Regions from separate parts of the Homo sapiens genome. Here regions 1, 2, 3, 5 and 6 are each linked to region 4. The links come from fine-mapping of genetic effects on gene expression. A gene starts in region 4. Each other region holds a variant in brackets. All regions are shown on one strand. Distances are from middle to middle. Region 1 overlaps TASOR2 (transcription activation suppressor family member 2). Region 2 has its middle 2.8 kb from the start of LASTR. Region 3 overlaps ASB13 (ankyrin repeat and SOCS box containing 13). Region 4 holds the start of ASB13 (ankyrin repeat and SOCS box containing 13). Region 5 overlaps TASOR2 (transcription activation suppressor family member 2). Region 6 overlaps ASB13 (ankyrin repeat and SOCS box containing 13).

Evidence for each region. PIP is the estimated chance that this variant, and not a neighbour inherited with it, causes the effect.
Region 1: its variant is fine-mapped to the expression of ASB13 in T cells (TOPMed, PIP above 0.99).
Region 2: its variant is fine-mapped to the expression of ASB13 in whole blood (TOPMed, PIP above 0.99).
Region 3: its variant is fine-mapped to the expression of ASB13 in whole blood (TOPMed, PIP above 0.99).
Region 5: its variant is fine-mapped to the expression of ASB13 in whole blood (TOPMed, PIP 0.98).
Region 6: its variant is fine-mapped to the expression of ASB13 in caudate (GTEx, PIP above 0.99). The same link has a PIP of 0.9 or more in putamen.

Annotation. Positions count from the first base shown.
Region 1 is chr10:5,758,600-5,763,426 of GRCh38, reverse strand. TASOR2 (transcription activation suppressor family member 2) reads right to left here. Exons shown (of 22, transcript NM_001321783.2): 19 at 4,435-4,540; 20 at 1,956-2,137; 21 at 781-895; 22 at 1-398. The coding sequence ends at 395. Among named protein-coding and RNA genes, the nearest start is that of GDI2, 52 kb to the left of the region's middle. The variant A/TA (reference allele first, on the strand shown) is at 1,597.
Region 2 is chr10:5,596,367-5,601,371 of GRCh38, reverse strand. No RefSeq gene overlaps it. Among named protein-coding and RNA genes, the nearest start is that of LASTR, 2.8 kb to the right of the region's middle. RefSeq lists an enhancer at 3,894-4,766. The variant T/C (reference allele first, on the strand shown) is at 2,713.
Region 3 is chr10:5,636,359-5,641,363 of GRCh38, reverse strand. ASB13 (ankyrin repeat and SOCS box containing 13) reads left to right here. Exons shown (of 6, transcript NM_024701.4): 6 at 534-2,497. The coding sequence ends at 661. Among named protein-coding and RNA genes, the nearest start is that of LINC02677, 21 kb to the right of the region's middle. The variant C/T (reference allele first, on the strand shown) is at 2,443.
Region 4 is chr10:5,664,237-5,669,241 of GRCh38, reverse strand. ASB13 (ankyrin repeat and SOCS box containing 13) reads left to right here and starts at 2,647. Exons shown (of 6, transcript NM_024701.4): 1 at 2,647-2,733. The coding sequence starts at 2,691. RefSeq lists silencers at 2,644-2,713, 3,014-3,063.
Region 5 is chr10:5,722,421-5,727,425 of GRCh38, reverse strand. TASOR2 (transcription activation suppressor family member 2) reads right to left here. Exons shown (of 22, transcript NM_001321783.2): 8 at 3,649-3,749; 9 at 2,893-2,996; 10 at 469-541; 11 at 303-365. Among named protein-coding and RNA genes, the nearest start is that of TASOR2, 40 kb to the right of the region's middle. The variant T/C (reference allele first, on the strand shown) is at 2,581.
Region 6 is chr10:5,642,480-5,647,484 of GRCh38, reverse strand. The region is part of intron 4 of ASB13 (ankyrin repeat and SOCS box containing 13); the gene reads left to right. Among named protein-coding and RNA genes, the nearest start is that of ASB13, 22 kb to the left of the region's middle. The variant G/A (reference allele first, on the strand shown) is at 2,335.

The sequences.
Region 1 (4,827 bases), 94 kb before region 4:
AACCTTTAAAACAGAGCATAATGTGCATCGTATGCCTTTCTGACATTAGCATGCAAAAACAAAGCTATTTGTTAAAATAGACTTATTTTTGCTCCAACTAAGTAAACATGTAAAATTATTTTTAATAAGCTCAATAGCTTAGAAGGCATCTTGTTTAAAATGAAAATAATTTAAAACAATATCTAGCACTGCAACCCAAAGCTAACAGACAACTGCAATGCCACTGTGACATATTTCAGCAAAATATAAAAAATGAAAACTTTCCAAGTTGTAGAACATTGGTTTTTCAAATGTAAGACTGTTCACATGTGTATTCACATGTTCACAAGTTTTCCAAAGGGAAAATACTAATTTTTTATTGGCATCATCCATATCCAGGCAGGCTGTAGTTGAGTCACCTGAAGAAACACAAAATTGATAAAGAACTTCTTAAAATAATACGAACAAGAAATATTTTATAAGCGGGATGCTCTAATGGGGAAAACGCCTATGCATTCTAAGGTTACATTATGTTCTGTACTGACGATCCAAGTTAACAGCAAGTGAAAATGCACATTAGATAAAATAGGTAATTTTAGTAGATGGTTACTTCATTTAGTGATAATTTAGGAATTCCTATTTATGCCAAATAGCAATTCCACCCCTAAACAAACACTTTAAATTTATAGCATGAAGTATGTAAACAACAGTTTCCCAACTGTTTCCCTTAGACACAAATGTCAATATTTGCCATCAACAACTCCAACTCACATGGGAAAGTTACATAAAAAGTGTTCTTACCAATAGCTACTCCTAAATGGAGCTGCTATTTTTTCTATGTTTTCTATAAAGTTATTTACATCTGTAACAAGGATTCCACTATTTTCAAAGACTTCTCTGGGGATAGTAGGCTTGTCTGTTAAAAAAAAAAAAAAACAACTTTTGGTTAATATAATTAATGTACTTTTATATAACAGGACCTGGTTTTTTATTTTAAAAAATCTGTGGAACTTCCTCGTGTGAGGGGTAGGGGGAGAAAAGGTGTTGGGTTCCAAATTAAGAAAAGATTTGAAGCTTTGGAAATAGATGCCTCCATCGGGGGTGGTGGTTAAAGTACTGAAAAAAAATCCCTGAAAAATGATAACTATGGTTCTTTACGTAAATTTTTCTTAACACTTTTTTTTTTTTTTTTTTAAAGATAGATAGGGTCTTGTTCTGCCACCCAGGTTACAGTGCAGTGGTGTGATGACGGCTCACTGCAGCCTCGAGCAATCCTTCTGCCTTAACCCAAGTAGCTAGGACTATAGGCACACATCACCACACCTGCCAACTTCTGTAGAGATGAGGTCTCGCTAAGTTGCCCAGGCTGGCCTCAAATTCCTGGGCTCAGTGATCCACCTGCTTCAGCCTCCCAAAGTGCTGGCATTACAGGCGTGAGCCACTGTCCCTGGCTGCCCCACAAATTTTTTAAAAGCAACCTCTGCCTCCGGGGTTCAAGCCATTCTCCTGCCTCGGCCTCCCAAGTAGCTGGGACTACTGGCATGAACCACCACACCTGACTAATTTTTGTATTTTTAGTAGAGATGGGGTTTCACCATGTTGGCTAGGCTGGTCTCT[A/TA]ACTCCTGACCTCAAGTGATCCGCCCGCCTCGGCCTCCCAAAGTGCTGGGATTACAGGTGTGAGCCACTGCACCCAGCCCCAGTATTGATTTAAAAAATAATACGGTATAACTACTTATACTGTATTGAGTATTATAAGTAATCTAGAACTGACTTACATACATAGGAGGATTGTGTAGTTACCTGCAAATACTACATTTTATATAAGGGCTTCAGCTTCAGCAGATTTGGGTGATTCTGGTATCCATGGGATGCCAAGCCATTTAGATACCTGATACTCTTCATCAGGTATCTAACTTTGACATTCCTAGAGCTGACCAATTTTGGCATTAACTGAGTAAAATGCGCCTGTGAATTACCTGTTAGGAGGACAGCAAACCTGGCATCAATATGCTGAATTTGCAGGTTTAGCAAACATTTCAGAATTTCTGCTTTTGTTGATGATCGAGAGTCACACTGGTGATAATGAAGCAATTCAATGATATTTGCACTCTGAAATGACTTCAACATTATGTTCTTCTTATGTGCAGTTGAATCCACTCTGTGAAAGATACATAGGCATATTAAAATATTTTTCAGTTTTATTCTTAGGACTTTTTCTTGCCTTCAGTTTAACCATTCAAACTCATGAGTTCCTCTGCCTTTCTTCTTGACGTTCTTTTTCATGACACACTTTGGTTACCTCAAAACATCACAATTGTACCTACTCCTTTTGTAAATGTGGATTTTAAACATGGGCCTCATTCTAAGAGGGACATCATGCATCTACCTACGACCAATCAAGCCATGTGGCTTGGCAAGCCTTTCATGAATTTCGAGTGGGCCTTATTGCGTTGTATATTTGTAGAGCAATGCACATCTATACTTCTCATACCTTGTGGGCAGATAATCGCCAACTTCATTAAAATTAGGTAGCAGCCAGAATTTTCTTGGTTTCTTGCTTCCCTGAAAATTCTATCACTACTAGGAAAATGTGTTAACTCAGTATGTTTAAATTTTTAGCATTTCTGTCTCTGCTCGACTCCCGTCTCTCTAGTTTTCATCACTTACATTCTCATGCTTGTTGGAGAAAACCCAAATCACACCCATTCCCATAACCCTAGTGATAATCACTCTTAACATCATGAATTAATTTCCTTTCACTTTTTCCTGTATAAATTTTTTATGACATCATACTGAACATAGTTACATGATACCAACTTTTATGCCATCCCTCTTTCTATGAATAGAAACTTTTTACATGCTTCTATTGTGTAAGTTTTGGGTGGGCATTATTTTGTATAAACTTTAAAATATTTAACTGTAGTCTGCATATCTCCCTCCTAGAGATGGAACTGAGGTTGGTTTTGCAATGACTGATAACCACCTAGAATTTTGGGTAAATTCCACAAAAGGTCAAAGGATATGAAGAGTTTTCTAATGAGTTCTCAATAATACATAACGCCTGTTACATAATGCCAGAGTGGTATAATATGAAGAGCATACTGCAGCGCCAACAGCAGTGAGTACGGGCATGTACCACATAATGATGTTTCAGTCAATGACGGACCACATATACAATGGTGGTCCCATAAAATTATACTACTGTAATTTACTGAACCTTTTTTGTGTTTAGACACACAGATACCACCATTGCATTAAATCTGCCTACAGTATTCAGTACAGTCACATGTACAGGTTTGCAATCTAGGAGTAGGCTCTACCATATCAGTTTGTGTAAGTACACTCTATGTCTGCACATAGACAAAATCGTCTTATGACGTTTCTCAGGCTGTATCCCCGTCGTTAAGTGACATGACTTTCTCTACCCAAAGCCCTAGAAGTGCTAGATTGATTTATGCTTATTTTATAGGTGTGCTGTGGTACATCAGAACCTTAAATGTGCTTCTCTACTTACCGAAGTTGACGTTTTTCCCCTCAAGTGCTGGTTACTGAAGTCCGCTGTGAATGGTCATACCCTTGACCTGCTGAAGCCTTTGCACCCTCCTTTCCTGCCAAGGAAACCTCTGTGCTCCTTCTCTCCTTTGCTAGCTCCACTTCAAGAGAAAAGCTTTCTGAGATTCTGTTCCTCAAAGGTCACATACAGCTAACAGTCGTTTCGTCTTTCTGGGATTGAAACCCAGCTTCATAACTTACTACTTGTTTGACCTTGGTCATGTTTGTTATCTACTCTGCTTCAGTTCTGCATTATAAAAGTGAGGATTTGCTATCTAGCTCCTGGGGATGAAGTCTGAATGAAAATGGATGCACCTAACAGTGCCTGAAATCCTTATTTCACAAGGGCTTGTCAGGTCTGCTTTTCCAATTGGTCCTGCTTGTGAGAATGTGGAGGAATCTCTCAGCCCCAGCTCTCTTCAGCCAAGGAATCAAACATGTATTTTTTTCTTTTATAAATTACAGCTTTAGACTTAGTGAAGTTTGCGTATTTATAAGCCTCTTCTTTTAGGGTACAACTGAATTAAGGATAGATTATGGTCTTAATTTTTCCATTCTCCTTAAAGTGGTGGCAACTTATAAGTATCCAAAAAAGCATTAATGGTACAAGTTCCATATATTTTTTAAAGTTTGTAGTAGTAGGGCTTAAATAGAATATGGACATTTCATGACTGCTAAGTTTGACTCCCTTACTTCTGTTAGTCTAGATAAGTACATGCCTCATACTGTTGGCTACGGTCACAGCACATAGCTTCCTTCATTGAATACAGAGCCAGCAGCCCTCATGCTCTTTACTGATGAAGGCCATTCCACTGCAGCACTAGGCTAGAGCCCATGGAACATGAGGCGTTTCTCTGCTACCCCAGCAGGGCAGGAGGAACCATACACACAGCAAGTCCTTACCTTTCATCTTCTTTTAGCTTTTTATTTTCCCTGTAGTGAAGCAACCACTTCCATCTTCCATTTCCATTTAGTTTTTCCAGGATTTTGATAATTTCCTTCAGTTGAACTACAAAACAATAAATGTAGCAAAAGAAGATGACAAGTTTAAGGTACTTTTGGCTCATGCCAAGCCCAGTGATAATTATTTGTAAAACAAGAAAAAAACAGACTAAGACCCATGGTTGAGTACACACCATCACTGTCACTTATGTGGTTGGGCAGCATCCTGCTCTCACAAGCCCCTCAGCCTGGTCCCACCTGCTCACACTATGGTGGGAGATAACTCTGTAGACACGAACACAGTGGAGTGGTCACCAGCAACTAGAGTTCTGTGTACAAATTGTGTGACAGAAG
Region 2 (5,005 bases), 68 kb after region 4:
TTAGTATTTTTTAAGATAGGGTCCGCTCAGGCTGGAGTGCAGTGGTGTGATCATAGCTCACGGCAGCCTCCAATTTCTGGGCTCCAGTGATCCTCCCGCCTCAGCCTCCAGAGTAGCTGGGATGACAGGCTCACACCACCATGCCTGGCTAAGTTTTGTATTTTTTGTAGGGATGCAGCCTCGCTATGGTGCCCAGGCTGGTCTTGAAATCCTAGCCTCTAGTGACCTGCCTGCCTTGGCCTCCCAAAGCTCTGGGATTAAATGCGTGACTCACCATACCTGGCCCCAAAACGTCTTAATTCCAGACCCTCCTTGCTCACTGGAAACTCCTTTTCTGATGCCTTGGGTGAGCTGTGGTCTTCATCGTGGCCTCCCTTTATTTTTTTTTTTCCAGCTATCTACATTTTCACTTATTATCTGATTTTGAGGAGACTTGGAAATTTATAACATTTCTCTATGGCTCACCCACCATCTTGGGTCTCTAAAATTCACTTCCAGCAGGGCCAAGGAAATATTGAAGACTACACTGTTGTTTTTCCAAATGTTATCACAGGAGCAAGAGCTGAAGACCAGAATCTTCCTCCCGTCTTCCCTTCATGCTCATTCTCTCTCTCTCCCCCTCATTCTTCCCCAGTCTCTCTCCCACCCCTCTCTTCTCTCTTTCCCTGGGCTACACAATGATAACATACAAAATAGAAACAGAAAACTAAAATTAGATGTGTGTGACCAAGGATCCTGCTTTGAGCAAAGGAAAAATAAACCATACCCACATTTCTATTTTTCCCAGGACTTGAAGAACAACCTTGGCTATTTGGGCAGTTGGCTATTCCTGGGAACATTTCAGAAATAACTCATGTTTGTTTATTATTGAGTATTTATAACAGTTTCAGAGTAGGTTTCCAATAGCCCCACGGAGGACAGCGTGGGCTCCGGGAGGGATGGGCAGGAGGGCCTCTGGCCAGGAGGCGGGAAGGGCACCATCACTGCTGGGTCTCACACCCCCACCTGCTCCTTCAAATTTCTGCTTGCTGAGGCCACAACACAGGGGTGACTTCCCGAAACACAGGGCTCGGAGCTTTGTTTCTCTGTGAGTCTTCCCTGAAAGGACGTAAGAGCCTAAATTGGATTACTTCTTGCATTTGATGGAGTGTGGTGCACACACACACACACACACACACACACACACAGGCAAACACTCTGTGCTCAGGCATGGATTAGAGGTGACATTTCTGGAGGCATGAATGGATGGCGGATTCCTGAGCAATCACCCACAGACCTGTGCGCCCAGGAATGCCGCCGGCTGCAGGGCGCTGACATCACCCCTCTCCTCCGGGCCCTGGGAGAAGTGCTCGGACCCCAGGTCTCAGGGCGGTTATTTTTCGCCAGCAGACCGATGCTGTGGCATTCTCACGGTGTGCTCCAGGGAGCCAGGCTTTCGGGGAGGGCCCCTTTGGCCTTTTGAGCTCCCAGTCTCTGCCTCTGCTGTGAAAGAACCAAGAGTTACAGGTGGTTAAAGGTGGAGGGGACTTGGGACCCGTTTGCTCAGCATCTTCCACTGGTAGATGAGGCCAGAGGTCAAACAGCCTACTCAAGGTCAAACAGCCTGTTCAAGGTCAAACAGTCAGCGACAAAGCCACTGTCCCCTTCAGCTCGCCCCTGCACTGCTCTTTGTTTATTACAGTGATCCTCAAACAAGGTAGTCTCAGGACTCACTTTGTACTCTGAAAAACCACTGAGGCTCCCGAGGAGCTCTTGTTTATATGGCCGCATCTATCAATGTATGTTGCATTAACAATTACAGCTGAGAAACTTAAAAAATATGCATGTATTAATCTATCAGTCGATTAATAAACCTGTTGCACACCAACATCAAATATTCTTATAGGAAATAATTATATTTTTTCAAGACAAAAGAATTCAGTGAAAAGAAGGGCATTATTTTACATCTTGCAAGTCCTTTTAATGTATGGCTTAATAGAGGACGTTAAGGTTGTCATATCTCCTTCCGCATTCAATCGGAATTGAACCGCGTGTCATGTAGCTTCTGGAAACTTCACTGTGAGAGAATGAGAATGAAGAAGTCAATTAGTGTCTTAGGATTATTATGAAAGGATCTGGAACCCTTCAGCTGTTCCTCGGTGACACTTTGAGAACCACTGGCCAATCGTATGTTTCTGTTGCCTCTCCGGCAGCACTCTTTTTGACTCTGGCCCACGCAGTCGTTCGATAAACATGCATTGAGGAACTACCAGGTGTTAAGCTGGGAATTTAAAAACAAATGTCGCATATGTAAATGCTGGTCCAAAAACTCAGTTGCAGAAGAAATAGAGCACACTTTATTTTCCTGTAGTAACTTGACATCTGAGTGCAGGTCCGGGTGGCAGGGTCCTGGGAAATTCCAGTCAGTCCTTCCCCGGCTTTCTCCACCCAAAGACTGTGGGGTAACCTTGGGGGTCTCAGGGCCCTCATTTCCTTGTGGGGCCTTTATGCTCTGTGTGCACGGGGGCAGCTGAGACTCCGAGGCCTGGTCTCATGGCACTCTGGCTTCCCGGGCAGGAGGTGAAGGAGGTGGGGGGGTCCATCTGCCCTCTCCAGAGTTCAGCTCTGTCCCTCAGAGGAGCTGAGAACATGGGCACAGTTCCCCAGGGTGCATGTTCTCTCTCTCCCGTCTCATTCTCTCTCGTTCTCTCTTGTTCTCTTTCTCTCTCCTCT[T/C]GTTCTCTCTGTCTTGTTCTTTCTCTCCTGTCTCTCTCTTGTTCTCTCTCCTTCTTCTTTCTCTTGTTCTCTCTCTCCTCTCTCTTGTTCTCTCTCTCTCGTTCTTCTCTCTCCTCTCTCTTACATTCTCACTCTCTCATCTCACTCTCATTCTCTCCTCTCTCTTGTTCTCTCTCTCTCGTTCTTCTCTCTCTCTCCTCTCTCTCTTGCATTCTCACTCTCTCATCTCTATCTCATTCTCTCCTCTCGTTCTTTCTCTCTCTCTCATTCTCTCTCCTCTCTCTCGCTTTCTCTCTTGTTCTCTCTCATTCTGTCTCTCTCATTCTCTCGTTCTTCTCTCTCTCTCTGCTTCTCTCTCTTGTGTTCTTGCTCTCTCTTCTCACTCTTATTCTTGCTTTCCTCTCCCTCGTTCTCTCTCTTGTTCTCTTTCTCTCTGATTCTCTCCCTCGTTCTGTCTCTCTCGTTCTTCTCTCTCTCTCCTCTCTCGTTCTCCTTTTCTCTCATTTTCTCTCTCCTCTCTCTCTTGTTCTCTCGTTCTCTTTCTCTCATTCTTCTCTCTCTCTCCTTCTCTCTCTTTCCCTCTGTTGTTGTTTCTACCTCTCCCTTGGCTGCTTCCTATCAGGCCTGATTAATCTCTTGTTGGGGAGATCCTTCTCCCCTCAAGCTTCTTCAAGCCCTCTCTGCCCACTCCACCTTCCCCTTTCTCCCAGGGGCTTGGGGTTTTAGAACCAAAAGCTAGAAAAATGTGCAGGCTGTTTCTGCCCCGGCCTGCCTCACGCCTCCCTCAGGATTAAATGAGATAATAGTACATGTGCCTGGCTCACACAAGGACCCACTGAAGCCGCTGTTGGTGTCCTTGCGATTTGTACTCAGGGATATTGAGGCAGAAAGGTAAACAGGGAAGAGGAAAGGGGAAAATTCAGGGAGAGGAAACCTGAGGCATTCACATTTCAACACAGGCCATGACAGCGGCCCCTGGTCCCTGGTCTTCTGCAGCTGCTGGGGTCCCTCAGTACTAAAGGGAGGGGTGGGGAGCATCCCCCCATGAGGGGGGCATCCCCTGCTGCCCTCTCCTCAGCCACTCTCCTTTCTCAGGTCATGGCATGGATTTCATTTCCAGGAAATCCACTTCTAGCTCACTCGTCAGCAGGCCCAGTTGAAGGGACACAGCCTCATGGGGTCTCAGCAGGCCCCATTGGTGGAATGAAGCCTTGTGGGACCAGCACTCCCGGTTGGTGGGACGCAGGCCTGTGAGCTCAGCAGGCTCATTTGGTGGGACACAGCCTCATAGGGTCTCAGCATCAGCAGAGCTTTGGAGCCTCCAGTCCCCTCTGACACTGCCCTGCTGGGACTGCCCAGCCTCTGCTCAGACGCTTCCAGGGATGGGCCCTTCCTTTCCGGCTCCTGAGTCCTCCTCCTGGTGACTCGCCTGCTGCCCCAGGCGTTTTCAGGGGTGTCAGTCCCTATGTGTCCTCATCTGTCTAGGACCAGTGCCCCTGGGAGCACATGCCTGGCCGTCTGCTGGGAGCCGCTGGGCCAGCCCTGGGTAATTTCTGTGGGACATGCAGACCACGGCGGGCGCACCCTGTAGGTAGTCAGTAATGGCTCACGGATGACGGGTGTGAGCTGGAGCAGCAGTGGGCAGGGGCAGCTCACCTCTTTGCAGGAGGCGGGTGGGGCGGCCGCTCCGGGTGGCTGAAACCGATGGGGCAGGGCTGTCTTGACCACAGCTCGGGCCCAGGCTGCTCATCATCACTCCCTTTGCCCACCTGGATGGGGCTGCTCATGCATGGCCACTACGAACTGCACTCTGCATGTGTGTATGTGTGTGTATGTGTGTATGTGCATGTGTGTATGTGTGTATGTGCATGCGTGTGCGTGTATGTGTGTATGCGTGTGTGTGTGTGTGTGTGTGTGTGTGTGTGGTGGCCTGCGCTCTGTACACACAACCGCCCAGCAGAGAGAAAGAAGAGCACGGGATGGGAGAATCTCCTTTCTTTCCTCTGACGCTGTCAAGCCTTGTGGGTAAATCTGGAAGACGTGGTTGGTGGACAGTTAAGATTCCATTAAAAATGGGAAAGAGCCCCTGCATGTTGCCTTTAGGCCGTGATGCTCACAGCTGGATGAGTGTCTCGCCTGGCTGGTGCTTGCTTCCTTTGAACTCCTTTGCGAAGCAGGCTGGTGGTCTCCCGTGTGGGGATCAGACATGGCATTGGGTCCTGGCTGCACCCCACAGCTGGACCCCGAGCTCTTGTGAGTCTGGGCAGCGTCACCCTTCTGTTCTCCTGGAGTG
Region 3 (5,005 bases), 28 kb after region 4:
TTGGGAGGCTGAGGCGGGCAGATCACCTGAGGTCAGGAGTTCGAAACCAGCCTGGCCAACTTGATGAAACCCCATCTCTACTAAAAATATAAAAATTAGGCGGGCATGGTGGTGGGTGCCTGTAATCCCAGCTACTCGGGAGGTTGAGGCAGGAGAATTGCTTGAATGCAGGAGGCGGAGGTTGCAGTGAGCTGAGATTGTGCCGCTGCACTCCAGCCTGGGTGACAGAGTAAGAGATTCTTGCCTCTGTCGCTTTTTTTCTGTCTCAAAAAACAAAAAACAAAAAACCTCAAAACCAAACAAACTCCCAAAGCCCACAAAAGGCAATCCCAGTGGACATCATGCCCCGAACTTCATTTCCTGGGCTCCCTTCCTCGGGTTCCTGGCTGTCCTTCCAGAGAAGGCCTACAGGACACATCCCGGTTCCAGGGGAAAGGGAGGCGTTTCCGATTCCCTCTGAGTTTGTGTTCCATTGCAGGTGTTGTGCTTCTTCCTGAAATTAACCTCACATCCTTCCTTGCTCCCTTTTTCAGAGACACCTCTGACTCTGTCACAGCTCTGCAGGGTGAACTTGAGGAAGGCCACTGGCGTCCGAGGGCTGGAGAAGATTGCCAAGTTAAACATCCCGCCCCGGCTCATTGATTACCTCTCCTACAACTGAATTGCAGGTGGGGTCCGGACCGTGGCTGCCCCCGTTGTGCCCAGCATTGCCCGGGTGAGGGCTCTGCCTGTTCCTCTGAAGCAGCGTGATTGCTGTAGATAGAACAACGCTCCTTCGAGTCCCTTCCTGCGATCCTGTTTAGGCTTCTCTCCTGGATCCTGGATAATGTTTCCAGGGTGTTGGGAAGGCCTGCGTCTCAGGTCACAGTTGTGGGTGTGGCCCTGCGCTGTTCTACAGAACCTACCCTCTCAATGGGCATGGGCCCAACCATCCAGTTTTCCTCTTTTACGGACCATCCTCAAAGGCACTCTCAGGACAGACGGCGTGGGGAGCACAGAGGAGGCTGGCAGAGCTGGGGACTGAGGGCATTGTTGCTGATTCTCACTCACCGGGGCAGCCTGCCGCAGATGCACAGGCCCCAGGTGCAGGCCACCACCTCCGGGTCGGCACCAGGACTGCCCTCGGTGCTCATAGGGAATGGCTGGGCCCACGGAAGGTCGGCCTGGGATGTGGCCTGGGACTGCTGCTCTGCTGGCTGCTGTGTGGATGCTTTTCCTGGAGCACTTTCCAAGGCATCCCCCAGCCCCAAGCCTGCGCGCATCTGTCACTCAGGGACTTTCTATGGGTCTTTGTGGGGGAAGGCCCTGGCTTTGTATTCCCCACAAGTAGCACTGAGTTTCTTAGGAAATTTGTCTTCAGTATTAGGTCTCCAACTCTTGTAAAAAGTTTATATGTAGGATAAAAACCTTTTAGAGGACACGTAGGCGGTACCACTAAGGTTTTGGTAATGAGCCATTCAAACCGACAGCAGTGTGAAGGTGTGTCAAGGTGTATATTCTCGTGGCTCGGCATTCTCAGTGCAAAGGCCTGTTTGGAGACTCTGTGGGAATTGTTTTTCATCTGTTTCTATGGTTGTCAAATGAATTCTTCACCCACCCTACAGTTTGCTAACTCCTTGAAGCTATCAAATTAGTAAGACCATCTATCACATCCAGCATTGTCCCAGTGCTTTGAGTTGGACGGGAATGGGACTCTGCAGCCAAGGCAGGATAAGAAAATCTTGCAATCCCGTCCTGCAGTGATAGAAACAGGTCGTTCTGCATTATAAGCCATAGGTGGAGCATTCGGTAGCGTATTCAGACTGCATGGGCCGGCCTAGGAGTCTTTGCCTTCATAAATTTTAAGAACCCCGCCCACAACAGGGAGTTAAACTGGAGGACTTTGCATGATTAGTTCAGGGATGAGTGGTTTCTGGGGCATCTGAGGTCAGGAGTTTGAAACCAGCCTGGCCAACTTGATGAAACCCCATCTCTACCCATTCTGGAGAACAGGTCACGCCTGTCCTGGAGACAGTGTGCCGGGAAAAGGGAACGTGGTACTCACTGGATGCACCCAGGCCGGCCCGAGCCTCCCACCGCAGACAGTGTGGAACAGAGTGAGCCTGAGCTGCCCAAGGCGATGCCCTTTGTGCTGTATGACTGGAGGCCTCTCCGCGTGGGTACTTGGGGGTGGGGCCACAAATCTGGCGAAAAACTTCATGCTGGCCGCCGTGAGGTTTTACTCCAGCGTTCCCGCCATTGTCATGGCGGGTCTTCGTCCTAAACTGAGAAGAAAAGCATTCCTGTTTGATCACCGCCTTAGTTACCAGTTCTGGATCAGTCAGTGTTTCTGCATGGAATAACAACCATTAAAAAAAGCACTGGGTTCTGCCCTTTCATCTTTGTAAGAGATTCTTGCCTCTAGCAATGACAACCTGTGATGTCTCACAGTAGAGCACTTAG[C/T]GCAGAATCAGGTCCCCACGGCTGTTGCTCAATAAAAGTGGCGGAATAAAGTGCATCCCTGTGTTCACACGACTCTTTTCTTATGGGGCAGAAACACCAAGATGGGCGCATCCTGTGTGGATGGAGAGGGGTGGCTCTCGTCTTGCTGTGTCCCAGGTCGTTTGGCAGCGCTGTGCTTGCCAGGGAGCCACACTTTCCCATCTCTTCCCCAGGTCTCCTGATGCCAACTTCAGCACCCCCCTTATGTGGACTTTTCTTGGGGGAGACAGACGCTGTCCACGGGACCAGGTGACTGGGATTTTGGGTCCTCCCCTGCCCTTATGCAGGGCTGTGACTGCACACAGGTTTATCTGCTTCTCTACTCTGAGTTGTTCCGGAAAGCTGCAAAACCGAGATAATGGATCAGACTTGGAGCATTGAAGGGGTCTTGATGACCAACCACTGAGCCAAGCCCGTCACCTCAGGTGGACGAGATTGGGTCCCCAGCGTCAGGTTTTGTGTTTTTTTTTTTTTTTTTTGAGGTGGAGTCTCGCTCTGTCGCCCAGGCTGTAGTGCAGTGGCACGATCTCGGCTCACTGCAAGCTCCGTCTCCTGGGTTCACGCCATTCTCCTGCCTCAGCCTCCTGAGTAGCTAGGACTACAGGCACCCGCCACCACACCCGGCTAATTTTTTTTTTTGGTATTTTTAGTACAGACGAGGCTTCACCATGTTAGCAAGGATGGTCTCGATCTCCTGACCTCGTGATCCTCCTGCCTCGGCCTCCCAAAGTGCTGGGTTTACAGGTGTGAGCCACTGCGCCCGGCCGCCTCAGGTTTTTATGAGGCTGAAATTAAATGATTGAAAGATGCCTTGGCTGGGTGGGGTGGCTTATGTCTATAATCCTAGCACTTTGGGGAGCCAAGGTGGGCAGATCACTTGGGCCAGGAGTTTGAGACTAGCCTGGCCAAGATGTTGAAACCCTGTCTCTACTGAAAATACAAAAATAAGCCAGCTGTGGTGGTGTATGGTTGTAATCCCAGCTAGTCAGCAGGCCGAAGCAGGAGAATCGCTTGAACTTGGAAACGGAGGTTGCAGTGAGCCAAGATCGTGCCACTGCACTCCAGCCTGGGAGACAGAGTGAGACTCTGTCCCCACAAAAAAGAAAAAAAAAAGATGCCTTGAAAAGCCTAAAGTGGTCCCCAAATATGAAAGTTACATTGACTGTTGTGTGGTTTTGTTGATGTTTGTAGATCTTGCAGCTGTGTGAACTATTCCCGCCTTAAGATCATACCATCTATTTCAGGAGTCCTGCAGTCATAAGACTTCTCAGTTTACATTTTCAAATGCAGTGTGCAGTGGACAGATTTGGAGCAGATGTTTGCAACATATATAACAAGTAATTGGCAAGCAAAATATATAAAGATCTTATGATAGATCATTAAAATGGGCCAGGTGCTGTGGCTTATGCCTGTCATCCCAGCACTTTGGGAGGCTGAGGCTGGAGGATTGAGCTTAGGAGTTTGAGACAAGCTTGGGCAGCCTAAAGAGACCCCATTTCTACAAAAAAGAAAAGATAAACAACCCAATAGAAAAAAACTGGGCAAAGAATAAGAACAGGGCTTTATAAAAGAGGGATCTTGAAATGTCCACTCCCAGGAAAGGATGCTGAGAAGTGATCAGGGAAATTCAAATTAATATTTAATTCAACAAAGTGATTACCATTGAATGTCGCCATTGAGACAGTCATTGAAAGGTCTGAGTTTCACAGTGTGGATGGGTGGGCCATGTGGGCAAATGGAAATGCACAGGCTGCTAGTGGGGAATACATTGATGATAGGTCTGTTTTGGAGAGCTATTGGCTGATATTAATGCAATGAAAAATGTGCATACCCCTTGTCCCCAGTAATTCTACTTTATATAAATAATACCCTAAAGAAACTCTCAGGCAATATCACAAGGAGACATGTATGAGGTTGTTTACTGCAGCGATACCTGTAATAGTGAAAACCCCACCAGTTGGGAGTAAGATGTAGAATATCATATACATCTTACATGTCATACCTACACTCGATAAAAGTTAAGATGGATTAGAACTACACGTTTTAACACGAATAGATCTCAAAAATATAGTGGTCGATCAAACAATTGCCAGACTTTTCTGTGTATGGTATGAGTCAATTTGTATAATTTTTTTAAAAAGCCCATCTAATAATTCATACGTATGCAGTAAATACATAAAATCATGGAAACCACACACTGGCATCATGGGGATACCAGTGGCTTGGGGATAGGAACGCAGGGAACTTCACCTCTGTTGTATTGCATTTCTTAAAAAGTGATGTTGGCCAGGAAGAGTGGCTCACGCCTGTAATCCCAGCACTTTGGGAGGCTGAGGCGGGAGGATTGCTTGAGCTCAGAAGTTCGAGACCAGCCTCGGCAACATAGTGAGACCCTATCTCTAAAAAAAAAAAAAAAAAAAAAAAGATACGAAGCACATGATAGAATGCTACTATTTGCTCATGTTGGGGGGCAAATAGAAACATGGGGTTACTCTCCATGTGTTTTGATGTTTGATTTTTTCAT
Region 4 (5,005 bases):
AGGGCTGCCTCCCCGTCTCTCCCTGGAGCCCAGAATCTCCAGGAGAAACCCAGAAATATACATGTTTAACAAAACCTTGATTTCTCGAGTTAGTAAATTTAGGAAAAATGGCTTATCCAAGCAAATAGAATTGGATTTCCTAAAAATTTAGTCCTCACCCAAGCTATTTATTTTGGAGGCAAAAGAAGAGTATCTTATGACCTAGAAGACTCTAAAAATGTGGTATGAAGACTGTCTTTATTAGAAAAACCAGGGGTTAACACATCTCATTTAACAATGTGTAGGGGGTCCCCAACTACACCACTTTCCAAATAGCGGTCTTATCAGATTTTAAAATGCTGATACAAAAGTTATGATCTTATAAAATGACATTTACTTCCAACATGGTGAAACCCCATCTTTACTAAAAATATTTTAAAAACCAGCTGGGTGTGGTGGTGGGCACCTGTAATCCCAGCTACTCTGGAGGCTGAGGCCAGAGAATTGCTTGAACCCAGGAGACGGAGATGGCAGTGAGACAACACGGTGCCACTGCACTCTAGCCTCGGGGACAGAGTGAGACTCCGTCTCAAAAAACAACAACAACAAAAAACCACATGTGGTAGTTAGTTTAAAAATCACAGACCTTAGGCTAGGTAATCAGCAAATATTTGCTAAATGAGTAATAGAAACTTTGTCAATATCATAGAGGTTCTTACAATAGATTCAAAAGGTAATTGGAACCAACATGCAATAAAAAGAGATTAACACAAAAATAGATAAGTGGATTACTATTTAATGAATATTTTTGGAAAAACTCTATTTCAGTTTAGAAAAGAATGAACTGAGCTCCTATATTTTCATTCTACACATTGCAGTGAATTCCAGATGGGACTCAAAGACTTAGCAACAACAACAGAACAGAACAGAATAATTTATATTTTCTGGCTCTTGCTGGGGAAATACATTCTAAATATTGAAGAAAAAGGAAATACTTTCAGGGAATGCATTTCTGAATATATATGTAAACTTTGCAAAGCTTTTTCTGTAATGAAATCTTTTAATATTTTGGTCAAGCAACAGAATGGAGGAAAAACAAATAATAAGCAAATACTTGCTTATTAATATGTTTAGGAAACACTTGGATAACACACATACACATATGAATATATACACACACACATATATATATATGTTCTACATGATCATACTAAAATTTAGATGACACTTCGTCCAGGAAGAAATATTGAAGAAAATGCAATCATACAAACACGACATTGCCACAGGGGAAAACATAACATCCATGGTAAATATAACGATACAAAAATCTGTTACATTTAGTAAAAAGTGCAGAAAACCGGCAAGAAAAATGCAGGAGCCTGATTTTGGTAGAAAGTGGCAAAAAGGCTCTAAATGCCCAGTGCAAATGGCTTGAAATTCCATTCCCAGGCCTGGGGCTCCACATTTCCAGGGGCTCTGCTTTCCAAAAGATATGGTTCAATGTCCCCTAGGTATAGTGCCTTCGGTCTGGACTGCAGATGGAGACCTGGGTCATCCCAGAAGCTTTGTAGTGTGAGAGATCAAACTGGCTGCTCTGCCAGGCCTCACCTATTTCCAGACTGGATGATTCCTGATACTTTTACTTTTGAGCCCAAACTAACTTCTGCATGGAGGTTCAGTACAGGTCAGGTGAGTGACGAATCTCCTGACAGGGCTACAGTGAACTTTCACAAGGTTAAACCTTCTAAACTTGGGAAGCTGCTTTGCAAAAATAAATAAATAAAATAAAAATCCCTTACTCAATTGTTGACTGGGTATTATTCCGGAAACAGGAAACAGGTTTTTCATTTCTGCCAGGTTGTGCCCCAGCTTCCATTTGCTAAGCAGCTTAGGGGAACATTGGATTAAAAACCACCCGTAAAGAAAAGGCATTAAGAAATTGATTTGAACGATTTGAAATTATTATCTTGAAAGATCAAAGAAACAGTGATTATGAACACCGGCTCTGGTGGGAAGCGGTTCTTGAAAGTTAAAGCATGGGGGAACTCGAGTACTCTGGAGCATCATCAGCATCTGTACAATGCAAGTGAACTCTGGAAGCTAGACGCATGCTTTGCACGTGGACACAGACACATGCTTGCACAGGACACATTTGCAATACATACATGTTTATACATGGACACATGTTTTGCACACGCTTGCACAGGACACGCTTGCACAGGACACATGCACAGGATGCATGTTTTGTACAGGACACATGTTTTGCACATGGAAACACATATCCATGCTTTGCAAAGGGACACAGGGAAGCATGCTTACAATGGATACAAGTTTACACACGGACGCATGTTTTGCACAGGACATATGCACAGGATGCATGTTTTGCACACGGACACACACGTTTACATAGGACAAGTGCACAGGACACGTTTTGCACCGGACGTATTCTGTGCACGGGACGCACGGTTTGCAGATGCAAGCACACACACTCCTCGGCGCGACGGGCGAAGCGGGGTGGGCAGCGACAGCGGAGTCCGGACCCAGGGACAGCGCCTCCGGGAACCTCGCCAAGGCGGCGGGAACTACAACTCCCGGCTCGGTCGCCTCGGGACGACGCGCGGCCCAGCGCAGACTGGCCCCGCCCAGCGGCCCCGCGCGGCCCGGCCCAGGTCCCGGCGCCCAGAGTCGCCGCGCGGCCGCCGGTGAGCCGCATGGAGCCCCGGGCGGCGGACGGCTGCTTCCTGGGCGACGTGGGTACGTGCGGGCGCCGCGGAGGTCAGAGCGAGGCAGCGGCGCCGGCTCCTGAGGCCGGCCGCGTATCCGATGGCCTGCGCCGGGGAGGTGGTGGCGCGCCCCGCGCTGGCTCCGTGGGCGGGGGCGTTTGGCGGGGTGGGCCGCGGTGAAAGCAGGGTCCCAGTGGTGCCGCGCATCCCAGACGGGCTCTCATGTCTGGTGCCTTGTCCCAGGCCAGCGCACTGCGGGGTTGCAGTCCGTGCGGCTCGCCAGGTGTGGGGTTTCGCAACCGCAAACCCACCGAGCGCCGCGCGCCCTGGGGAAGGTGCGGGACGCGTGCGGGGCCGTTGCCCAGTGGCGGGGGAGAGCCTGGGAAACGCCCACGGTGCTCCCTCTCGGGGAAGCCAGGCGCGAGCCCACGGTAAGAGCTAAACCCCCCTCCACTGGCGCGGGTGAGGCCGTGGCGCAGTGTCCGAGCATCCTGCAGAGGCGTCCGCGTGACCCCGACTCCGCTCCAGTGAAGGTGGCCTTGGGGCACCCCGGCACACTCCGAAAAGTGCCATCCCAGTTCGCAGCCTACTTTACCAAAATCCGAGCAGCCCAAGAATGAAATGGATTTGAGGGAAGGACACTCTTTGGGGAAGCAAATTTTTTTGCTGCCTATGAAGCAATAATATGGTCACTGAAATGAGCGACGGAAGCACTATGAAAGCCTAAAAAGAAAAAAAAAATCTAAAGCATATTCATCCTGGTAAAAACAGTAGTGCACCTAAGAGGGAAAAGTCTTAAGGGTAAATTTAGCTGAAGAGGAAGTTGCAGTCATAGCAAGGCAAAGATATTTTAATTGACTTTGCAAAATAACCACCTTTGACATGATCAAAGGTATCTAATAAGCATGTGTTTTTACTTGGCATTCCAGTCCAGGCAAGCACAAGACTTTGACCCTGACACTGTGATCTGCATTTGATTAGCTTAATTGAGTAAGCAGTGAATAGCTAACGGCAGAAGCTTATTTAAACACATATTTTAATATTTCTGTTCATGGCATCACTTCTGAGCATGTCTTCTGCATCGTTTGTTATGGAATGCATCTGTAGAAGAAAGGCACATTTTAAACTAATGAATCCGCAACTTTTGAGGTTCACTGGTATTTTTGACATTGTCATTTTTTATTTAATATATTTCTCCCCAAATAAGTTCTGCTGATGTTTTTTATTCCCAGTGTAATGAATAAGCTGAATGTGTTGGATCCAAAACAATACTGCCATTCCAGCAGCACCAGAGGCGAACCGTAGGAGCTTTAGACAATTTTAACATTCTGACCTCAAATTCTGGATGTGTGGTGTACCGCGACCAAAACATTTAGGTTTTGGGCTGTTGCGCAGTCTCTCATGCCTGTAATGCCAGCACTTTGGGAGGCCGAGGCAGGTGGATCACTTGAAGTCAGGAGTTCGAGACCAGCCTGGCCAACATGGCGAAACCCCGTCTCTACTAAAAATACAAAAATTAGCCGAGCATTGTGGCGGGTGCCTGTAGTTCCAGCTACTTGGGAGACTGAGGCAGAAGAATCACTCGAACCTGGAAGGCAGAGGTTGCAGTAAGCCGAGATTGGGCCATTGCACTCCAGCCTGGGTGACAAGAGCAAAACTCTGTCTCAAAATAAATAAATAAAAATACAAAAATTAGCCAAGCATAGTGGCGGGCACCTGTAATCTCAGCTACTGGGGAGGCTGAGGCAGGAGAATCACTTGAACCTGATAGGCAGAGGTTGTAGTGAGCTGAGATCATGCCATTGCACTCCAGCCTGGGCGACAGAGTGAGACTCCGTCTCAAAAATAAATAAAATAAATAAATAAAGAAATAAAGAAATTCTGCATTCCCTATGGACGTCCTTCTGTGGTAGATGAACCTCTAACCTACTGGCTGCTCCCCCACTCCCCCGTACGTTCCCCCCAGGGTCCTCCAGTAGAATTGTTTTTGTTTAAATCAGATTTCAGTGTTGACATTATTGTGACTGTGAATATTGCAGCTGAGCCACTTGCTATGTGGGGACTATGTTTCTCTTTTTGTGTAATGTCTTGCTTTTCTTGGACATGGCGGGTGTTCTTTTTGTTTACCTGTGGGTTCGGTGTTCTCCATGCCTAATCCCTAATTTATCCCCAGACAGTCTTCTTAGGCCCCTCAGGTAAGCAATGAGTCCTGTGTTCTCTCTCTCCTGGTTCAGTGTTTGGAGACGTGTGCCCTGCAGCCTTGGGTCTTCCAGCTCTGCCTGCTGCTGCTCTGGGAAGCCGGG
Region 5 (5,005 bases), 58 kb before region 4:
ACAGGAGAGACGATGGCAAAATTTAATAATAAATGAATTCAGTTTTAGACATGCTGAATTTAAGGCACCTTTGAGATATCTCAGTGGCAATGTCAGTAGACAAGTGGAGATATGGGACTGAGGCTCAGAGGGAAGCATAAACCTACAAGGGAGGTCAAGAAGGGTGAACCAGTGATGTTAAGAAAAGAGGTATTTAAGAGGAAAAAACAGTCAACAGTGTCACGTGCTGCTGAGAGGTCAAGTCAGATGAGGACTAAATATATCCAACAGACAGAGTGAGCTGGAAACCATTGTATCCTCACCTGTTGACAGGGGTGAACGAAATAAATGTAACCCATGCAGACCCATCTGCTTGCCTCCAAAATCTATGCAGAATGAGAATCAGAAGAAGAAAAGTTAGGTTGTTGATCTTATAAAGCAAAAGTAAACATAATGAAAAATATTTTTTCCCAAAACAGTTCTCCATACCTGGTTCTGATAGTAAGGCTGATGATGTAAGTAAAATGAAAAACCCTCGATCTTCTAAGCATTTGATGATTGCCTTAAATAAAAAGGAAAAATTCAACTGAAGGAATATTCTGCAATCCCTCTCTTCTCCCTCTACCCATACTCATTAGTGAATATTGACCTCAAGAAAAGAAAAAATTCTGCAAATGTTATGGGAATCAGGGTAATTCTGTCCCCAGTATCAGAAACTTCAAGTTCCTTAGCTGAAATAATCTTGGCCCTGTTGGGTCTATATAAAATAACCAGAACATGAAAGGTTAGTTTTAGAACAGTGCTCAAGAACATGGCAGATCAATCAGAAAAGACTTATTTTTTTCACTGAGACAGCTGACATTTCATACCACTGCCTAAACAGCCAATATGTTACCATGTAGTCATTATAAACTCACGATGAATCAAACCTATAAGTAGCATCTTAAGCTCATATTTACATGAAAATTATCCCAAAACGCTGAATCTAAAAAGACTGCAAGATACCATCCAATAGAATACTTCTTTCTATGCATCTTAAGAAATGGAAAATAACAGAAAATAATCAAGTTCCAGGGCAACAAGAAATACAGATGAAAATAAATTCTTCCTCTCTTTTGTTCCCCTCTATTAGAGTCTTCAGTGGACTCTTGAGCTCAAGAAAAAAGTCTTGAAATTTTAATGCTTTCAGTAACTGGGGCAGTTTTGTCCCCAGGCAGCAGAAGTTGTCTAAAAGCTGTTGTTCTAAATCATGAATTTAATAGTTTTTCTTTTCCACTGCTTACCATTTCAAAAATCTATATACACATAAAAGATAAAATCCAATATTAGTACAATAATTTTTCAGTTAAACCACCTAAATAAAATATACCATTTTACAGAACATTTTATTTCAAAACTGAGAGGTGATAAGGCTACAAATATAAATCAATATATTATTTAATCACAATGAATATACAAAATAAGACTTTTTAAATTATTACATTACAATTAAGGTATGACACTAATATCTCACTCTCAAAAAGAATCACTGCTTTGAGTTTCAACAAGATTCTATGAGAGCCCCTATGTGTTGTATGTCACATGATGACTTACATATTTGTCTCCTCCATAGTCTCCTAAGCTCCTTGACTTACAGGAGCTATGATTTAAGAGCCTATTTCTTTAAGAGACAGGGTATCACTCTGTTACCCAGCCTGCAGCACAGTGGCACAGTAACAGCTCACTGCATCCTTGAACTCCCAGGCTCAAGCTATCCTCCCACCTCAGCCTTCGGAGTAGCCAGGACTACAGGTGCAGGCCATTATGCCTGGCTAGTTTAAAAAAAAAAAGTTTTTTAATTTTGGTAGAGATAAGATCTTGCTATGTTGCCCAGGCTGGTCTCAAACTCCTGGCCTCAAGCGATCCTCCCACCTTGGCCTCCCAAAGTAATGGGATTACAGATGTGTTCCACCATGCCAGACTTTAGGGACTACACTACTTTGTATCCTTGCTTCTTGCCCCTCCTGCCCAGTATGTGAATCAATCTTTTTTTTTTTTTTTTTTTTTTTTTTTTTTTGAGATGGAGTCTTGCTCTATCGCCCAGGCTGGAGTGCAGCTGCGCGATCTAGGCTCACTGCAAGCTCCGCCTCCTGGGTTCATGCCATTCTCCTGCCTCAGCCTCCCAAGTAGCTGGGACTACAGGCGCCCATCACCACACCCAGATAATTTTTTAGTACAGACAGGGTTTCACCATGTTAGTCAGGATGGTCTCGATCTCCTGACCTCGTGATCCGCCCGCCTTGGTCTCCCAAAGTGCTGGGATTACAGGCGTGAACCACCACGCCTGGCCGTGAATCATCCCTTTGTCCAGTGTATCTATGCTGTAGATGCTACCCACCCTCTGGGGCAATAGTAGTACTTCATAATGCCTGCACCACCTACCTCATTCATCACAAGGAGTACTCAAGTATAGCATAATAAATAAAATATTTTGAGATGGACAGTCCACACTCACATAACTTTTCTTACAGTATATTGTTGTAACTATTCCATTTTATTATTGTTGTTAATCTCTTACTGTGCCTAATTTATAAATTAAACTTTATCATAAGTATGCATGTA[T/C]AGAAAAAAACACAGTATACATAGGGTTCAGTACTATCCACAGTTTCAGGCATCCACTGGGGGTCTTGGAACATATACCCCACAGATACTGTATTACATTAATAATATATAAATAAATATTAAACATGAAACTCCTTTCAGCACAACTAATATATATCTATATCGATCTATATCTATATATCTATATCTATATCTATCTATCTATCTATCTATATATATATATAATATATATATATGTGCCATCTAGGCACAACTAATATATATCAATTAAAGAAAAACATAATAATTATATTTTAAATTAGTGATGCTTACCAATTGCTTGTTTTTAATACATTCTGTTAATTTATCTATATTTTCCCCTTGTCTGTTTGACAGTTCTACCTCATACAAATTGAAGCACAAATCTTGAAAACAGACTGTAGAGAAAACCAGAAAAACATTTCTTATTTTTAATACGCTATTATGTACTTACAGTCAATTTGTTCATTTTATATGTTGCAAAAATGAAAGAATAGAAATACTACTCAGAAACCTTTATCATTTACTGTTCTTGGTTATAAAACTCCCTCATAAAACATCACCAAAATAGTTATTTTAAAACAATGCTCTTATTTATACTGACACTGCTATAGGATTAACAAGACAAATACAAATACTACATGAATAAACATCAGTGCTCCATGAATTAACCTAAATGACCAAGAAATTTCCTTCTCATGGTTTTTCTTTGAGTTTAAAAGTACCTCTATAAATAAAACCAACAAAAACTCTGTCCTCGAGAGGAATAGTTACAAGTTTCCAAATGCTTTTAATATCTGCTTGCTTAATTGCATCAGTATTTCTATATTAAAGCTAGCCTTTGTCATCTTAGATGAAACTACCTTTCAGTTTCTAGTTGGCCTCCAAGGAACTGAAGAAAATAGTAACTCTACAGCTTTCTTACAAAAGACTCTTTTAAGAGTCACTTATGATGAAACAGAAGTGTGCATGTGTGAGTGTTTGGAAGAGAGCAGAAAATAACCAGAACAAAGCCCAGGACAAGTAGCGTGTTATTACATTTCAACAGACCTTTCTCCTCCAAGTAATTCTGTTTTCTGAAGGCAGCCTCTGGTAGTCTTTTTTTCAAGGAAGACACTTTCATTACATATTTAAAATCTAGTTCCTGCGGTCTGAAAAACAACACAACAGTATCAAGCAGAATAATAAACAGTGGATCTAAATTTTCTTAAGTTTTGGTTTTCTAATATAAATGTAAACAAAAATATAACCACAAAAAAGACCTTAAGTTGATAAGCTCCAGGTTAAATAATATGTGTATTTTTAAGTAGTACAGATTTTCAAATATATGACCCATAAACCATGGTCTGCAAATATGTTCACATCTTCTCAATACATGTATTTTCAGTACAGACAAAGTATCTAGATGTGTCAAAAAAATTATGTATACAGGAATAAGGAATTAAAAAAAATTATGCTATTTATGAGTTATTTGCCAGGCACGGTGGCTCACGCCTGTAATCCCAGCAACTTTGGGAGGCTGAGGCGGGTGGATCAGAAGGTCAGGAGATGGAGACCATCCTGGCTAACTCGGTGAAACCCCGTCTCTACTAAAAATACAAAAAATTAGCCGGATGTGGTGGTGGGCGCCTGTAGTCCCACCCAGCTACTCGGGAGGCTGAGGCAGGAGAATGGCGTGAACCCAGGAGGTGGAGCTTGCAGTGAGCTGAGATTGTGCCGCTGCACTCTAGCCTGGGCGACAGAGCGAGACTCCGTCTCAAAAAAAAAAAAAAAAAAAAAAAAAAGTTATTTCCTGACTACTTTTTCCTTTTTTTGTGTGTGAGATGGAGTCTGGCTCTGTCACCCAGGCTGGAGTGCAGTGGTGCGATCTCAGCTCACTGCAACCTCTGACTCCCGGGTTCAAGTGATTACCCTGCCTCAGCCTCCCGAATAGCTGGGATTACAAGCATGCCGCACCATGCCCAGCTAATTTTTGTATTTTCAGTGGAGACAGCGTTTCACCGTATTGGCCAGGCTGGTTTCCAACTCCTGACCTCAGGCAATCTGCTCACCTCGGCCTCCCAAAGTGCTGGGACTACAGGTGTAAGCCACTGTGCCCGGCACTCTGTTTCCTTTTTAAAAACTCATTTTAAAATGCTTTTACACTTATACAAAAGTTGCAAACATAGGACAAAGAACTCTTTAATACCCTTCATCCAGATTTCCCAAATATTAACAGTATACCATGTTTGCTTTGTCATTCTCTCTCTCTATACACACGCATTATTTTTTTCTGAACCTTTTGGGAGTAAGATGCAAACCTGATGCCCTTTTATGTCACATACCTCTCTGTGTGATTCCTTTAAACAGGAAATTTTTTCTTTTCTTTTTTTGAGATAAGGTTTCACTCTGTCGCCCAGGCTGGAGT
Region 6 (5,005 bases), 22 kb after region 4:
CTCAGGATTGAGATTCCCAAAGAGGGAAAAAAATCAAAACCAAAAAGACCAACCAATCGAGGATTAGGCTCAGGACCTGTCTATACCAAAAGTTTTAGCCAAAGTGACTGTTAGCACAGGGTTTTTATCAACCCAACTTAAATGTTTTGTTGAGGGAAAATTTTAGTTTCATCATCTTATCCAAATTCTGGGTGTAGTGTAGGATAAAAACAAAACTGTTTAGGATGGCTGGGCACTGTGGCTCACAGCCATAGTCTCAGCACTTTGGGAGGCTGAGGCGGGAGGATTGCTTGAGCCCGGGAGTTTCAGCCAGCCTGGGAAACATAGCAAGTCCCCTTCTCTTAACAACAAGAACAAACCTGTTTGGGAACAGGAAGATCATGAATTCCCCCTGATGACAGCCATTTGAGCTTAGTTATGTGTAGTTTTTTATTGGAGAATCTTACTCACTTTCATGTGCCACTTTTCAGTCTTTTTAGTGGAAAAGATTCGTTTTGTGTAGGAATAGTTGTTGAGGTACTTTTAATTTTTTTATACACTGTCTTAGAAGTATCTCCATTGGAAGCAGGTGTAAGCGTTTCCAGCCGAGCCGTTCCTCTGGCAGCTGGATCCGTTTCTATGAACACAGCGCAGTGCGTTCATATCAAGCCTTTATGAGCTCAGTACACACGAGTTCCATTTTTACCTTCGTTCTGTTTGGTGTGGTTGTAGGGAAAGGGATCAACTTAGTGTTTAAAGCAAACATCCTTTCTGTATCAGTTAGGACTTCATGTCAGTTGGACACCTTTGCGAGTAACAGGAAGCCACTTCCACTGGTAAACAATGGCGGGCATTTCTAGTTCAGGTGACTTCAGGGCTGAGACGCAGAGCAGGATTAGGGGCGGCTGGACCGGAGGTTCCGTGGTGTCACCCAGGCCTCAGTTTCTTTGAACGTTGCGATTCTGCTTTCCTCAGTATTGGCTTCATCCTAAGCCTCCGGCCTCCCTGAGCAAGGTCACGGGGCTGCAGTGGCTTCAGGCCTACACGCCAGACGTTTCCTGTTTTAAGCCTTCTGGAGGCTCTTTCAGCGGAGTGGAAAATCCCTTTTCACACACCCCTCCCCAGTCCCTTTGCCCAAACTTTGCCAAATTCTGATGGGCTGAAGCCTGGGTCATTAGAACTAATTACTGTGGTCAGGGGAGAGGGATTGGACTAGGCGGGACCCACGCTGGAGCTGAAGTCAGGTCTGCTCCCGCCCCCACCACATTACCAGGTGGCAGCACAGTCGGGGGTGGGGGCTGGAAAGGAAGGGGCAGCTGTGAGGCCCACTGTCGCCCTAAAGTGGGGTTCCCACAGCTCTCCCCGGGAGTTTGCATGCCCCTGGGGAGTTAGAGGTGAACGTGGCTTTCTTGGGGAAGCCTCCGCACAGTGACTGTTGGTGTTGGCTCGATGCTGTGGGTAGCATCCAGCCATCAGCTCCACGCGGGATTCCTGGTTCCCATCCTACTCTTGGGTGGTCTCCTCTAGTACCCCTTGTGAGAGCAGATGGATCATCATCTTCTTCTTAGAAACCATTTTTTCATTGCGGAAAATTTCAAACATACAGAGGAGAGAGAAACAACAGCATCCCCTACGTCCTCACAAACAGATTTTTAAAAAGTAGTGATTCTGATCTTTTGGGGTCAGGTCACAGATCCCTCGGGAAACCAAAGGAAAGCCAGGGACCGTGTCTCTAGAAAAACAGAAGAGTGGAAAGTCCCTTTTCCTGCACCCCTCCCCAGTCCCTTTGCCCAAACTTTGCCAAATTCTGATCGGCTCAAGCCTGGATCATTTGAACCAGTTACTGTGGAGAGGGGAGAGGGATTGAACCAGTCGGGGCCCACATGAGTGCAGGTGCTTTCATGTGCGGTTTGAGAGCTGAGCTGTGAGGCAGAGCCACGTTGCACCCCACGGGGGACGTGGAGACCGTTGTTCTTGTTCTTTGTAGGCAGTGAGGCGAGTCCAGGAACCAGATTGTATTTGCAAAGGAGGAGGGCTGGGGAGGGTGAAAGTCCGGTTATGATGGTGAAGTAATTTTTAATCTGATCACTGACAGTGAATGTTGAACTCTGCCAGGAGTGTTCGGAAGCGGCTCCCTGAGGACGGTCCTGCTTCCACCTTTGTTCTTAGCACTGGCCCTGGCACAATTTAAAAAATTTTTTTAAAATTGTTGTTTAATTTTTAAAAAATTTTTTAATTATAATTTTTTAAATTTAATTTTTTTTTTCAATTTCTCTTGTGGTAACAAGCACCTATTGAGCTATTTGTGTTTATGTTCCAGGATTGTGCCAGTCTTGGCGTGCTAAGGTCTTAGGC[G/A]GTCCCGTCACGTCACTGGCCACGGGTTCTCTGAATCCACTTTAATCCTATTTTGTGTTGAAAGCAGGATTTTGGTAATGAGCCTGTGTTGACCCCTTTTCTCTGAAGCACGAAGTTCAGAGCTTTTAATTCCCTGCTTGTTTCCTGGCTCCCTGTCTTTGTCTCTCTCTGTCTCTGTGTCTCTGTCTCTGCCTCAGTCTTTCTCTTGCCTCTCAGTTCAAGGTATGTTACCATCCTTGCTTCACACAAAGTTACTTTCTTTCCCTCTCCTACCCTCTTTCTCTCTTCCTTCTTTCCTCTGTATCTGTTCCCTTCTTTCTTTCTTTTTTTTCTGAGATGGAGTCTCGTTCTGTCACCCAGGCTGGAGTGCAGTGGTGTGATCTCTGCTCACTGCAGCCTCCATCTCCCTGGTTCAAGCGATTCTCATGCCTGAGCCTCCTGAGTAGCTGGGATTATAGATGTGCACCACCACGCCCAGGTAATTTTTGGATTTTTAGTAGAGACGAGGTTTCACCATATTGGCTAGGCTGGTCTTGAACTCCTGACCTCAGGTGATCTGCCCGCCTCAGGCTCTCAAAGTGCTGGGATTACAGGCATGAGCCACCGTGTCTGGCCCTGTTTTCCTCTAACGAGTACCTGTTTATGTTCTCTTTCTCACTATGGGCCTCACTCTGTCATCCAGGCTGGAGTGCAGTGGTACGATCGTGGCTTGCTGCAGCCTCAACCTCCCGGGCTCAAGTGATCCTCCTACCTCAGCCTCCAGAGTAGGTGGGACCACAGATGTGTGCCATCACGCCCCCCGGGTAATTTTTAAATTTTTGTAGAGCTAGGGTCTCACTATGTTGCGCAGGCTGGTCTCGATTTCCTGGGCCCAAGAGATCCGCTCGCCTCGAATTCCCAAAGTGCTGAGATTACAGGCGTGAGCCCTGTACCTGGCCCAAGCATATATTTTTAATGAACATAGCTGATCGAGTTTCATCTCTGACTCTCTTCTTGGCTCACTCAGTGCTATACTTTCAGGATCCATCCATGTAGCTGCCTGCACCCCTGGCCTGGTGTTTCCCTTCAATCCCTTATTCACAATTTCATTTCCTTCCTTATTCACCTTCCTTCCCTTCCACCCAATCAAATGATGCCAAACACACATTTTGAAAAGATGTACATTGGGAAGGCTGCCTCCCTGCAAGAGCCCCTGGCCAAGGCCTCGTCTGTGGAGCGTGGCAGGGAGCGTGATTTTTAGAGCTCTTTCCAGCCATGGTTTTCTCCCTGATCGTGAGAGAGTAGCTGTGCCTCCCTTGGGCCTCTTTCTCTGTTTTTCTTCTTTTGTTAAAATAGAGACCATCTCTTTCTCTCCCAATTGGCAAGAATATTGCCAGAATTAATGACATGAGAGAAAGCTACTTGAACTTTAGATTCTGTGGATGGTACAATTTGTTTTTCATTACAAGCATATGTTTAGTGTTAAAATTTACTTCGTGTTATGATTGCAACATTATACTGGAGGAAAACCCCTTATGTGAAAGAGAGGTTGAATTGTGGGGAAATATTTCTTTAATCTATTGCTTTTGAATATTATTTTTTTGTAGTACATTTCTGCCAAATTCAGGACATAGATAAGTTAGCATTTTTCCTAGTTGAGAGATCCTTTTCCTGTTCTGACTTCTGAGTTTTGGCTGCGGGAAGTGGAAAGAACTTTCTTAAATTATGTCATCACTTTGGAGGGCTGGGGCGTTCTTAGGATCCCTCCACGAATGCTGTTATGAGCATGGTTCTTATGTGCTTTTAGGGGATTAAAATATTTTAAAGCAGAAAGCGGGATTTTTCCGATGCTTTTTGAGCTAGAGGAACTAGAAAATGTAAAAGCGTTCCACCTCTCAGCTCCTCTTTTGACCCTCTGAGACTGTCGGGAAGTGATGGCATGCTAGTGTCTGATTGTTTTAAAATCCCACTTTTGATAATACTTTATGTTTGTGGTTTGAATCTATCATTTGGCGAATTATTTTACTGATGCTGGGCGATTTGCTTGGCTTCTTTAAAACACTTCTCTTTTATTTGTTTTCTCTTATAACCTCCTTTGTTACTTGAGGAACAGACTTCGAATAAAATGGCATTTTCTTTCAAAAGAATTCTGAAGCCCTGGGGGATTCCATTGTATCGGATCAGTGATGGCTGTGCCCTAAGAATGATGTGTTACAAAAATCATATTTTTATCAAAATTTTTTTTAGTGTGTTGCAAAATGCCATATGTGACCAGGTGTGGTGGCTCATGCCCGTAGCCAGGAGTTCGAGACCAACCTGGCCAACACGGCAAAACCCCGTCTCTACAAAAAATAGAAAAATTAGCCGGGCATGGTGGCACACCTGTCATCCCAGCAACTCGGGAGGCTGAGGCAGGAGAATCGCTTGAACCCTGGAGGCGGAGGTTGCAGTGAGCCGAGATCATGTCACTGCACTCCAGCCTGGGCAACAGAGTGAGACTCTGTCTCAAAAAAAAAAACCCAAAACCAGCCATATTTAGCTACTAATTCCTTGCATCTTTCTGAATGTCTGCTCTTTTTTTTAAAAAAAAATTTTTTTTTACCTTTACTTTTAATCAGCTTGATGAATGTCTGCTCTTATCGTGAGAAAGTTGAGGAGTGCAGAGCTTACTCTCTTCTCTGAATTGCCTACT